Linked DNA regions of Homo sapiens. The protein of the gene in region 1 interacts with the protein of each later gene in a biochemical or structural test. Each region holds a gene or a part of one and is shown in the gene's direction. Other genes may lie near its edges. The genes, in order: JAM3, TJP1 and PARD3.

Region 1 (3,746 bases):
CAGTATTACATTCAGGCAGAATTATCCACACAACCCCTAAGCTCCATGGAACTTGTTCTTAAACTCCATGGGGTGGGTTTAAATCAGTTCTTTTGAAAGCAACCAGACTTTCCTCAAGTATAAGATGGCCACATAATGTAACAGACGCAGCTATGGATTTAGTACATTCGACTAGCAGCTGTTAGAGATGTGGTATTAGCAAATTCCTTCTCCATAAATTCTTTGAATTTTTTAAAAGCACAAATGTAGTAAAAGAAAGGAAAATATGTGTGAATGAAGTTAGGATGTATGGAGTCTGCTGAAGAATACCCTAGTGGTGAAGTTGGATTTTTTTTTTTTTTTGAGACTGAGTTTCTGATGCAGTGGCATGAGCTCAGCTCACTGCAAAACTCACTGCAAAACTCCGCCTCCCAGGTTAAAGCCATTCTCCTGCCTCAGCCTCCCGAGTAGCTGAGATTACAGATGCGTGCCACCTTGCCTGACTAATTTTTTTATTGTTTTTAGTAGACATGGGGTTTCACCATGTTGGCCAGGCTGGTCTTGAACTCCTGACCTCAAGTGACCTGCCCGCCTTGGCCTACCAAAGTGCTGAGATTACAGGCGTGAGCCACCACGCCCAGCTGGATTCTCTTTTAAGATATGTTTATAGTTGGCCGGGTACAGTGGCTCACGCCAGCACTTTGGGAAGCCGAGGTGGGCGGATCACAAGATCAGGAGATCAAGAACATCTTGGCCAACATGATGAAGCCCTGTCTCTACTAAAAATACAAAAATTAGCCGGGCGTGCTGGTGCTTGCCTGTAGTCCCAGCTACTCTGGAGGCTGAGGCAGGAGAATCGCTTGAACCCGGGAGGTGGAGGTTGCAGTGAGCTGAGATTGCGCCACTGCACTCTTGCCTGGGGTACAAGAGTGAAACTCCGTCTTGGGGGAAAAAAAAAGATGTTTATAGTCAGGTGGTGTGAATGTTATGCTGTCAAAGTTGAATGCAAATTTCAGATCTTTGCATGTACTCTCAGAATTCTAGCAGTATATGCAAATAGCTTCACTGGAGTGTAAAGCGATCCCGAAAGAAAGTTTTGGTAAGCACATTCTTTTACACCTAGTTTAGCAAGGACAGTATCCACTGTGGTACTCTATATGGAGAGCTAAAGCCTTAATTGACTGTCTCTCTGCTTCTTGGCATGGCACACAGAAAGCTTCCTGAGAGTTAGCCCTTGTTTCTGATGTCCCAGGAATGCTGTAGTGTTTTGTGTTGGTGTGTTTCTTTTGGTTTTAAGTAGTATTTGTTATGTGTTATATATTACATTTCCCATGAGTAGTTAATACATACAGCAGAGGTTTCAGTGCTGCTTGTATAAAGACATCAAACTATTTAATAGAGTTAGGACTATATGAACATTTTTTCTTACATTATCTTTCATTTGCAGTTTCCCAAGGTTTCTATGGTTCAGCCTTCTTCCTGAAAATTATTGCCAAAATCAAATTCTGCCATAGTCATGCTATCTGCTATGTTTGACAACCTCAGCCCACAGTGATCCTTCCTATCTCTAAATAAGCTTAGATCATAGTCTCTAGTTCAGTTTAGTACAACACCCATTTATTGAGTATCTATGACGTGTCAGGCACTGTTCTGTGTGCTAGGGTTGCAAAATGGGTAAAACATCGCCAGTCCTTAAAGAGCCAGGGTAATTGACTCCGATTTACATTGGGCTTTAGTTGTTAGGTGTCAGTGCATTGTATTTTCTCAATGATAATAAACATTTTGTTGGTAACAGAGGCTGAATTTAATTTTTTTGTATCTTTCCAGAGGTGATTCTAGTAAATATTCAGTTTATCTCACTTTGTCACTTGAAAGTGAGTTAACATTTCTTAAACACTCTCTTTGTGTCGAGGCATTTTTAAAAAAATGTCTTATTTCTAGTGGCCCTAGGAACTTCTGGAAAAGTGTCAGTTTGTACTACAGTAGTTATTCTGGAAGAAAGAGAATGGTAATAATTTATTGACTTGGTTTAATTTCAGAATCTTTCTGCCATCTGCTTTTGTGCAGTTACAAGGTTAAGAAGGAGAAAAAGATGGAGAAATGCTTATGATATCATTTAAGTGACACAAGCTGCAGGTATACTAGTATATACTGTATGATTACGATTACACAAAACATCTATGCTTAGGGGAAAAAACAGGATGAGAATGAACCAGACTGTTGATAGGGGCTGTTTATGAGTGGAAGTGTTACAGCAAATTGTTTTCTGCTTTTCTTTGTTTTTGTTTTCCTGGTTGATTCTTGTATTCCTTTGTCTGTTTTCCAAATGTTCTTTGATGAGGATATTTTTTGTGTAATGAAAAAAGTTGCATCTTGGTTTGGCTTCCAGTAGATACAATAGTGGAATTTTAAATTTGGCACTAGTAATGGGAAAATATAATTTGTTTGTTTAATGTGATAGCATGTGGATTGTGCCTTTTTCTAGCTTCTTAATATCAGCCACATTGGATGAAGGAGTGGCTGACTGGAAGTTCAGTTGCTTGATAATGTATTGTTTGTGACTCATTTGAGAGATTAGTTGCCACTGACTTTTGGGTGGGGGAGTCAGCTGTGGTGTCCTCAGCAAATGGTTAGCTGGAAAACTGAGAGCTGCCGAGATTACCGGCCTCCCCCCTTCTTTTTGAACACACTGACAAAACGATCTGAGTAATGGCCTTTGTTCACCTGTTCAAAGCGAGCCAAAATTTATTGAGCACCTACTCTGTGGCAGCCCCTGGAAGATCTCTGTTTTCTTCCTCTTGAGTGATAAAAATACAGGGTGAAATTGACTTCTGTTGAAACTAGACTCTGAAAGATGTTTCCCGAAGCACTCTGTCAGCTGATGTGCCCCATCACTTCTTCCTGCCCAACATGGACTTCCCTGTTGGATGTCTTTCTCTAAGGAAAATATTTAATGTCTTTAGAATGAAGTGCAGCTGCCTGGAAGCTTAGAGACAATGCAACAAATCCAAAGACAGCTGCTTTTTTTTTTTTTTTTTTTGGCAGGGGTGGGGCATGTTTTTCCTTTAAAGCATCTCTGTCAGGGTACTGAAACTTAATCAGCCAATCCATATTTATTTGGTAGTCTCCATTTTCATGGCAGTAAAGCATTCCATGGGCAAAGCAGGAGAACTTAAGATAATGTCTTCCCTTTACCAGAGGGAACATATAGTTTAGTCAAATAACAGAGCAGCATTTGGGTAAATATTCTGTGGGTTTAGAAGTGAGAGCACTTACTCTCTCTGGGCTGACCTGGTAGAGGAGAATTTCAAAAAGGAGCTGGACTTGTACAGATAATTGACTGACTTAAGTATAGATTTGGGAGGGACAGCGGTGTGGATGGGAAAGTGGAGGAAATAATGTGGGCAAAGGCATGGACTTGGGAATGCACATGTTTTGTTTTGGGATGAGTGAGTTATAATGATTAATAACACCTGCCAATTACTGAAAACTATGTGATAAGCATTGTGCTTATTGCTCTATCTGGGGTCTTAGTGAGCTTGGGCTTCTATGACAGAATACCACAAACAGGGTGGCATAAATAAGACATTTGTTTCACGGGCTCTGGAGCCTCACCTGGGTAATTTTTTGAACATTTTTTTGTAGAAACAAGGTCTTACTATGTTCCCCAGTCTGATCTTGAACTCCTGAGTTTAAGGGATCCTACTGCCTTAGCCTCCCAAAGTGCTGAGATTATGGGCATACACCACCATGCCCTCCCTGAATTT
Region 2 (3,746 bases), on another chromosome or scaffold:
TAGATTTAGGTGCTATTAAAGACACCACACCTAGTTCTAGGCAGCTTATGCAATTGCACATCTTCTTAAATGGTAAAGATAATGTGAAAGGTCTTTCATCACCACCTTTTAAAATTAAAAAATACTTCCCAAACCTTTTTAAATGGTGTTTGCATATGAAGAAATTTAATCACAATTTTTTTTTTTTAATGGGGTCTCACTGTTTCCCAGGCTGGTCTCAAACTCCTGGCCTCAAAGAATCCTCTGGTCTTGGCCTCCCAAAGTGCTGGGATGATGATGATGATGATGATGATGATGATGATGATTTGAGACGGAGTTTCGCTCTTGTTGCCCAGGCTGGAGTGCAATGGCATGATCTCAGCTCATTGCAACCTCCGCCTCTCGGGTTCAAGCGATTCTCCTGCCTCAGCCTCCTGAATAGCTGGCATTACTGGCGTCTGTCACCATGCCCGGCTACTTTCCTATTTTTAGTAGAGATGGGGTTTCACCATGTCGGCCAGGCTGGTTTCGAACTCCTGACCTCAAGTGATCTGCCTGCCTTGGCCTCTCAAGTGCTGGGATTACAGGCTTGAGCCACTGCGCACGGCCCCAAGTGCTGGGATTATAAACGTGAGCAACTACGCCTGGCCACCATTTTTTTTTTTTTTTTTTTTTTTTTTTTTTTTTTTTGAGACAGAGTCTTGCTGGTTGCCCAGGCTGGAGTACAGTGGCACGATCTGGACTCACTGCAACCTCCGCCTCCTGGGTTCAAGTGATTCTTCTGCCTCAGCCTCCCGAGTAGCTGGGACTACAGGCACGCGCCACACCAGGCTAATTTTTGTATTTTTAATAAAGACGGAGTTTCACCATATTGGCCAGGCTGGTCTCAAACTCCTGACCTCGTGATCCGCTCGCCTCGGCCTCCCAAAGTGCTGGGATTACAGGCGTGAGCCACCACGCCTGGCCCACAATTCTTAAAAGAATAAATAATACTTTGTCCAAAAGCAAAACAATTACAACATGACTTTAAAACAAAAATGACTTCAACCATTTTTATGAAGAACAAAAAGGAATAAGGGTTTGGTTTGCAGAAGGCTCTTTTCTGGTTCAGACAGCTTTGGGTTGCAAGATGTGTGGCACTTCGAAGCCTTAATTGATACTTATGTATCACCTACACATACTTCTTTGTTAAATTTGTTCTTTTCATACAGTTGAATTCTAAAGAGAAAACCATTGTCTAAAGCCTGATGTTTATGATTTCTTCCATTTCTTCTGTGCCGGTTGTGGCACTATACCAGATACTTTAAAGATGTTATCATTGATGTTACTAAGGATTTCTGGCATTTTTTGAAGACCTTTACATTTACAAGTGTAGATTAGTGAGTCTAGGATTGGTTTCTTACCATGTTCCTTGGTGTTTAGCAAAGCCGTCAACATTGTGGGAAGTTTGTGTAGTGGCTGATTAAACTGGACCATGGACTGCACGTGTTTACACCCTTTTCTGCCCAACTTTGAGTTGGAGGGACAGCATTGGAATGCAGGGCAGCTTGACCCGTTCGGTCAACAAGAATTTCAGCAATCTTGATGGCCAAAAATAAACTTTTCAAGATTCCTGTCTAGATGGGCGGGAAAGAGACTTTGGATATATCTTGAGGTCTAATGTGGGGTGTGGGCCGAGATGTCACAGGTCTCTAGGGTGTTTCTCAGGCTGCTGCCTCCGGGTGCCCATGACCTCATCACCAGTTTCAGCCTTGGCAGTCGGCGCCGGTGAACGAGAGCAACGCTTCTGACCCTGCCGGAGCTCCTCGGAGATGAAAGCCATGACGCGCCTTGCAGAAAATGCATTCCGCCTTCCGTGGGAACAACGCCGAGGCACGCGGTGACAGCCGTGACCATGCTGTTTGCCCAGTGAAGGAAACAACTGTCGGGTATCGGCTCTGCCGGCCTTTCCAGCCGCACTCATGCATGGGGCTCACCCCATGATGTGCGTGGCTTGTCGAGGAGCAAGTGGACAAGTCTCTTAAGGAAAGCTTTGGTGCACAGGCGCTTTCTCCTTGGGGGCGAATTCTGCCAGACCTTGGATAAAAACAAACAGGAAGACTCGCACGGCAGCGGAAACTGTCTTCCAAGTTACTTGGGTTACCCGGCTTTTCCTTCCGCGCTTGGGGTCGGGACCCCGGCCGCTCGTCCCGCCCCCTCCCCCGCCGCGGCCCCGCCCCCTCCCCGCCTCGCCTCGCCTCGCCTCGTCCAGCCCCGCCCCCGCCGGGCCGGGCATGCTCAGTGGGCCGGGCCGGCAGGTTTGCGTGGCCGCTGAGTTGCCGGCGCCGGCTGAGCCAGCGGACGCCGCGTTCCTTGGCGGCCGCCGGTTCCCGGGAAGTTACGTGGCGAAGCCGGCTTCCGAGGAGACGCCGGGAGGCCACGGGTGCTGCTGACGGGCGGGCGACCGGGCGAGGCCGACGTGGCCGGGCTGCGAAAGCTGCGGGAGGCCGAGTGGGTGGCCGCGCTCGGAGGGAGGTGCCGGTCGGGCGCGCCCCGTGGAGAAGACCCGGGCGGGGCGGGCGCTTCCCGGACTTTTGTCCGAGTTGAATTCCCTCCCCCTGGGCCGGGCCCTTCCGGCCGCCCCCGCCCGTGCCCCGCTCGCTCTCGGGAGATGTTTATTTGGGCTGTGGCGTGAGGAGCGGGCGGGCCAGCGCCGCGGAGTTTCGGGTCCGAGGAGCCTCGCGCGGCGCTGGAGAGAGACAAGATGTCCGCCAGAGCTGCGGCCGCCAAGGTGAGCGCCTCCGCGGCCGCCAGGGCCAGACCGGGCCGACCGTCGCCGCCCGCCCACCGGCATCTGGCCCGCGTCCCGCCCTCCCTCGCTGGCGGCTGTCTGGGCCCCGGGGCGGCGGGGTGGGCAGGGCTGGCGCGGGGCCGCGGGCCGCGGGCCGCGGGCCGCGGGGAGCCCCTCGGGCGGGGGCGGCGCGGGCCGCACTGGGGGCGGCCGGGGAGGGGGCTGCGGGCGCCCGGCCGCCGTACTGGGCAGGTGCATAGCTGCCGGCGCCTGTGCCTGGCTGCGGCTCGCTGAGGGCGGGGACACGCAACAGGTCCCTCGCGGAGAAACTCGGCTCCAGTGAGGGTTCGGGGGCTGGAAGCCGGCTCTCAGCGGGTCGGGGCTTGGGGTGCCACCTCCTGCTGGCCGGGAGCTGCTGTCTTTGGAGGAGTGGTTGGTCCCCGGCGAAACCCTGTAGTTTCGATCTGATGTCACTCCCTGCGGTATGCGCACGCCAGCGATAAGGCTTTGAGACTGCAAAACACTCCACTCAGCCTGTGAGGCGTAGTAGGTCGGGTTTTCTTTCATGCTGTATTACTTATTTAAGGTAACTTTGAAAATAACCTCTTTAACATTTAATAATTTAACTTGAATTAAACTTTCACAAGTAATACAAAGTATTCCTACGAATGGACAATAAGATGAGCACTTAAAAATTAGTAAAGGCCGGTGAGTTCAGCCGAAAAAAGTAACGTTTTTCCTGTTACTTTTCCTATGTGCTCTGAAATATTATTGCATTTTCCCATTGCTTTGAAACTAACTTGTGTATTACATTAAAAAGCCAAAGTTCCTGAAAAACAGCTAGGATGCTCCTCCCATTTTGTATATTAATTTTTTCATCATAAAATAGTACTTGTTATTTCAAACAAAGGAATACAGAAATGTGAGGAGTAAAAAATCTCCCCTTTAAAGAATATCAATTCATTACTTCAAATAGTATCGAGATACTTGGGCAGGT
Region 3 (3,746 bases), on another chromosome or scaffold:
CTGAACTAGTGTAGCATCAAAACTAGTATACATTCTCTGCCGCGCGGTGGCTCACGCTGCAATCCCAGCACTTTGGGAGGCTGAGGCGGGCGGATTGACCAGCCTGGCCAGCATGGTGAGACCCTGTCTCTAACTGAAAATACAATAATTAGCTGGGCGTGGTGGCGGGCACCTATAATCCCAGCTACTCGGGAGGCGGAGGCAGGAGAATCATTTGAATCCAGAAGGCGGAGGTTGCACTGAGCCGAAATCACGCCACTGCGCTCCAGCCTGCGCAACAGAGCGAGACTTGGTCTCAAAATAAATAAATAAATAAATAAATAAAAATAAATACATAAATAAATGTAAAAAACACAAAATAAAATAAAGTAGTATACATTCTAAACTAGTAGTATACTCTCCCAATGCATGAAAACAGAAACAACACCTATAATTATCAGTAATTGTTGTTGTGGATCCAAGTATCTATGTAAGAAGCAAAAAACCCACATCAACAGTTGTTGTCATCGTTGTCACAAACTTAATTACTGGCTAGAAATGTCTAGTGCTGCAGCCAAACAGCAGTAGGAGGAGCCTTTCCCATGGCTGAGTGGAAGGAGGGAAACCTAGACTATTTCTGGGTCTGCCTTGAGCTTTCTCTGCCGCCTTGGGCAAGTGACTTTGGCCCTGGGTCAATGTCCTGGAGTAAGATGGGGCTAACACCACTGCACTGATTTGCTGGGACAGGTGGTGGAAAGTGGTGGTCCAGGGCTGGGAGAGGAGAGGAAGGGCAATGTTTCCTAGGAGAAACTGCACTATGCTGGGGCAGCTGCGGTGCTGCAAAGCGCAGGGAGTGTGGCAAGCGGACGAACCTCGTGTCTTGTTTCCTTGTTTTAAGATTGGAGGTGGAGTGGGATGGATGGTCGATCGCCAGCTCTTCCAGCTCTTAAGTGCTCAAGTTCTGCGCCAACCCAGGGGAGCTTGATTGCTTTCACGTGTCTTGGAAACAACTGGCAAAAAAGAATTTCACATAGTCTGGAAAGGGCTTGGGACAGGGACCACTCTTTGCAGACATTTGTCATTCTTTAAACATAATGACATACATTTATTAAGGACTCATAGTCCATAACTAAGACAAAATGAGCTTCAGTTACGTTCCCTAACTCGGTCCACGTTCCTTTAGAACGTCTCAAGCCCGCATGTCACTCATCGCGGAGTCGCAGCCTTCCCCTGGGTTCGGGCGTCTGCGTTAAGCGCCGGCACATCGTGGGGATCCCCGCGTGAGATTTCTCTGCGCCGTCGGAATAGACTGTTCACGGATTCGCGTTAGGATTCCTTATGCTGCAGAACTTCAAAGAAATAAATGTATCAGAATTGCGATGTTTAAGTTCTAATCTATTTAAGCGGGTGGGTCAGCAGAGGGTCAACAGGAAACTTCAAGGTAAATAGTGGCCTCTGGAAAAGGCCCGGTCGCTCACGGCTTCCCCACTGTCTCCCCAGAGCAGACTATTAATTCTTGCGTTTCAGGCAGAACTGCCGCTGCCGGCCCTGCAGCAGAGCTAGGGAGCGGGCAGGGCAGAAACCCAGCCGAGCAAGCTGCAGGCTCGAGTCCCCGCGGGCGGAGAGGCTCGGGCTGGAGCCTCCGGGGCGGTGAGGAGGGGACTCACCGCACTGAGCACAAACTGCTTTCCCCGGGAGCGCCTGCACCCAAAACCCTCCAGTTCGAGGAATGGGATTAAAAGTGACAAAGAAAGGGGAAGGGGGGCTCCGTGGAGACTTCTGGAGGCGTGGAAGGGGCGTCCCCGAGGAGGGGCGACGCAGCCCTGCAGGGTGCTGGGCGGGCGGGGTGAAGGGGGCTGGGGGGCGCCTGGGCCAGGGCTGGTGGGGGCAGACGGCCGCCTGCCCGTGCTGGCACTGGGGCGAGGGGTCCCGCGCCCCCGGAGGGAGGGAGGGAGGGAGGGAAGGAGGGAAGGAGGTCGGCCCCCGAGGGCGGTGGCGGGGGCGCGAGCTGCGGTCCTGCGCTCCGCCCCGCGCGGGTAGCCGGCCGCGCCTCCCCCTGCCGCATGTGCGCGGTGTTGTGTGCCCTGCCCTGCTCCTCCCCCTCCCCTCCCCTCCCCTCCCCTCCCCTCCCGCCGTCCCCTCCCCCAGCGGCCCCGAGCGAGCGCCAGCGCCACACAGCCCCGGGCAGCCGCCGGCGAGCGCGCCGCGACGCCGAACAGGTGGCCGGAGGCTGCGGGCGCCGCGGCGGGGAGAGGCGAGGCAAGCCCCGGGCGAAGCGAGGCGAGGCGAGGGCGGCCGGGCCGGGCATGCGAGCTGAGCGGCCCCCCGGCGTCGCCGCCGCCTGCCCGCGCCCCTAGCCGCCCGCGCGCCCGAGTCCCCAGCGGCTCCTCCGCGCCCAGCGTCCTCGGTCCCGGCCTCGGCTGCTCCGGCTGCGCTCGGCGAGGGGCGCGGGCCCGCCCGCGGCGGCGGCGGCATGAAAGTGACCGTGTGCTTCGGACGGACCCGGGTGGTCGTGCCGTGCGGGGACGGCCACATGAAAGTTTTCAGCCTCATCCAGCAGGCGGTGACCCGCTACCGGAAGGCCATCGCCAAGGTGAGGGGCCGGGGGCGCGGGCGGGGAGGGGGCGGCGGCGGGGACGGCGCCGGGATCAATATGGCGCTTCCTGGAAGGGGGAGGAGAGGCGCAGGGAGGCGGGGAAAGGGAAAGTGCGGCCGGTCGGGCCTCGCGGGCGCCCCCCGCCCCGGACTGCGGGCGCCAAAGTTCTCTGCGCGGGCCGGGGCGCAGCCTCTGGGACACCCAGCCGGGTCCCGCGGCCCCCGCCCTCACCCTCCGCCCGGGAGCTCCGGCCTCGGTAGCGCGGGGCGAGCCGGGCAGCGGCGCATAGGCCGGCCCTGGGCGCCTCCCCGGAGTCTGCAGACCCAGCCAAGCCCCGAGCCAGCGCGCGGGGGGCGCAGGCCGGGAAATCCAGCCCCAGGCCTTTCCCGGCTCCCAGGCCCCGGGGGCACAGGCCGGGGACTGGGAACTTTTGGTGTGAGGAGAGTTTCGTGACTGCCCTTCCGACAGAGGCGGGTTGCGAGCCTTCTGCCTCCTCTCCCTTACTCGGGCGGGGGCGGAACAGCGGCGGGGGGCTTTTCCTCCATGTCCCCTGCTGGTAGGGGCCGGCAGGGGCGGCCCGTCGCGTCCGGGGGCTGCAGGGTTTGGGGAGTCGCCGGCTTGGGGTCGGGGAGGCGTTCCCGGGAGGGCCACCGCTGGCACTTGGCACTCGCTTGCGAGCATTTACTGAGCTGATCCCACTTGCTGGGCTCTGGAAAGCACAACCTTGGAAGAGTCGCGGAATGAAAAGTTTTCCTGCGAGGACCTCAGCTCCTACCTATCCCGGGCTGGTTCCATGTGGCTGGGCTGCGGGGCCGGGCCTGACTTGGGAGTTGAGTGGATTTCCCTTTTTCCTGGTGGACTGATAACATTGTCTCCACTTCACAGCATTCCTCTACTGTGTGTCAGAAGTGAAAAGGCGTTTTGTTAAATTGTTTTACCGACTGTGTCTGTGTTTGACAACAGCCCACGCTGAAGTTTCTCCCAAGCACCCGGGGATATATTTCCTTTGTAGTAGAGTCCTCTTTGGTGGGGAGCGCATTCGTTTGGGTGCAGTATTTCCCATTTGTTCCCGACAGTGGCCTGGCCCCTGTGGGCTTGGGGGCTGCAAATGACGTTGGAAAGTGGCTTGGTCAGCCCTATTGAGCGTACACAGGGTACTCCGGTGGCATCT

Evidence for each region.
Region 2: the proteins of JAM3 (region 1) and TJP1 form a complex in vitro, tested with the Homo sapiens proteins (2 studies listed by BioGRID and IntAct, with this or other methods).
Region 3: the proteins of JAM3 (region 1) and PARD3 form a complex in vitro, tested with the Homo sapiens proteins (2 studies listed by BioGRID and IntAct, with this or other methods).

Annotation. Positions count from the first base shown.
Region 1 is NC_000011.10:134,071,988-134,075,733, forward strand, and holds part of JAM3 (junctional adhesion molecule C isoform 1 precursor), read left to right. Parts: intron 1-3,746. UniProt on the Homo sapiens protein: Junctional adhesion protein that mediates heterotypic cell-cell interactions with its cognate receptor JAM2 to regulate different cellular processes. Plays a role in homing and mobilization of hematopoietic stem and progenitor cells within the bone marrow.
Region 2 is NC_000015.10:29,821,005-29,824,750, reverse strand, and holds the start of TJP1 (tight junction protein 1), read left to right. Parts: upstream 1-2,282; 5' UTR 2,283-2,722; coding exon 2,723-2,749; intron 2,750-3,271; exon of another isoform or gene 3,272-3,314; coding exon of another isoform or gene 3,315-3,335; intron 3,336-3,746. UniProt on the Homo sapiens protein: TJP1, TJP2, and TJP3 are closely related scaffolding proteins that link tight junction (TJ) transmembrane proteins such as claudins, junctional adhesion molecules, and occludin to the actin cytoskeleton.
Region 3 is NC_000010.11:34,813,702-34,817,447, reverse strand, and holds the start of PARD3 (partitioning defective 3 homolog), read left to right. Parts: upstream 1-2,151; 5' UTR 2,152-2,452; coding exon 2,453-2,572; intron 2,573-3,746. UniProt on the Homo sapiens protein: Adapter protein involved in asymmetrical cell division and cell polarization processes. Seems to play a central role in the formation of epithelial tight junctions. Targets the phosphatase PTEN to cell junctions.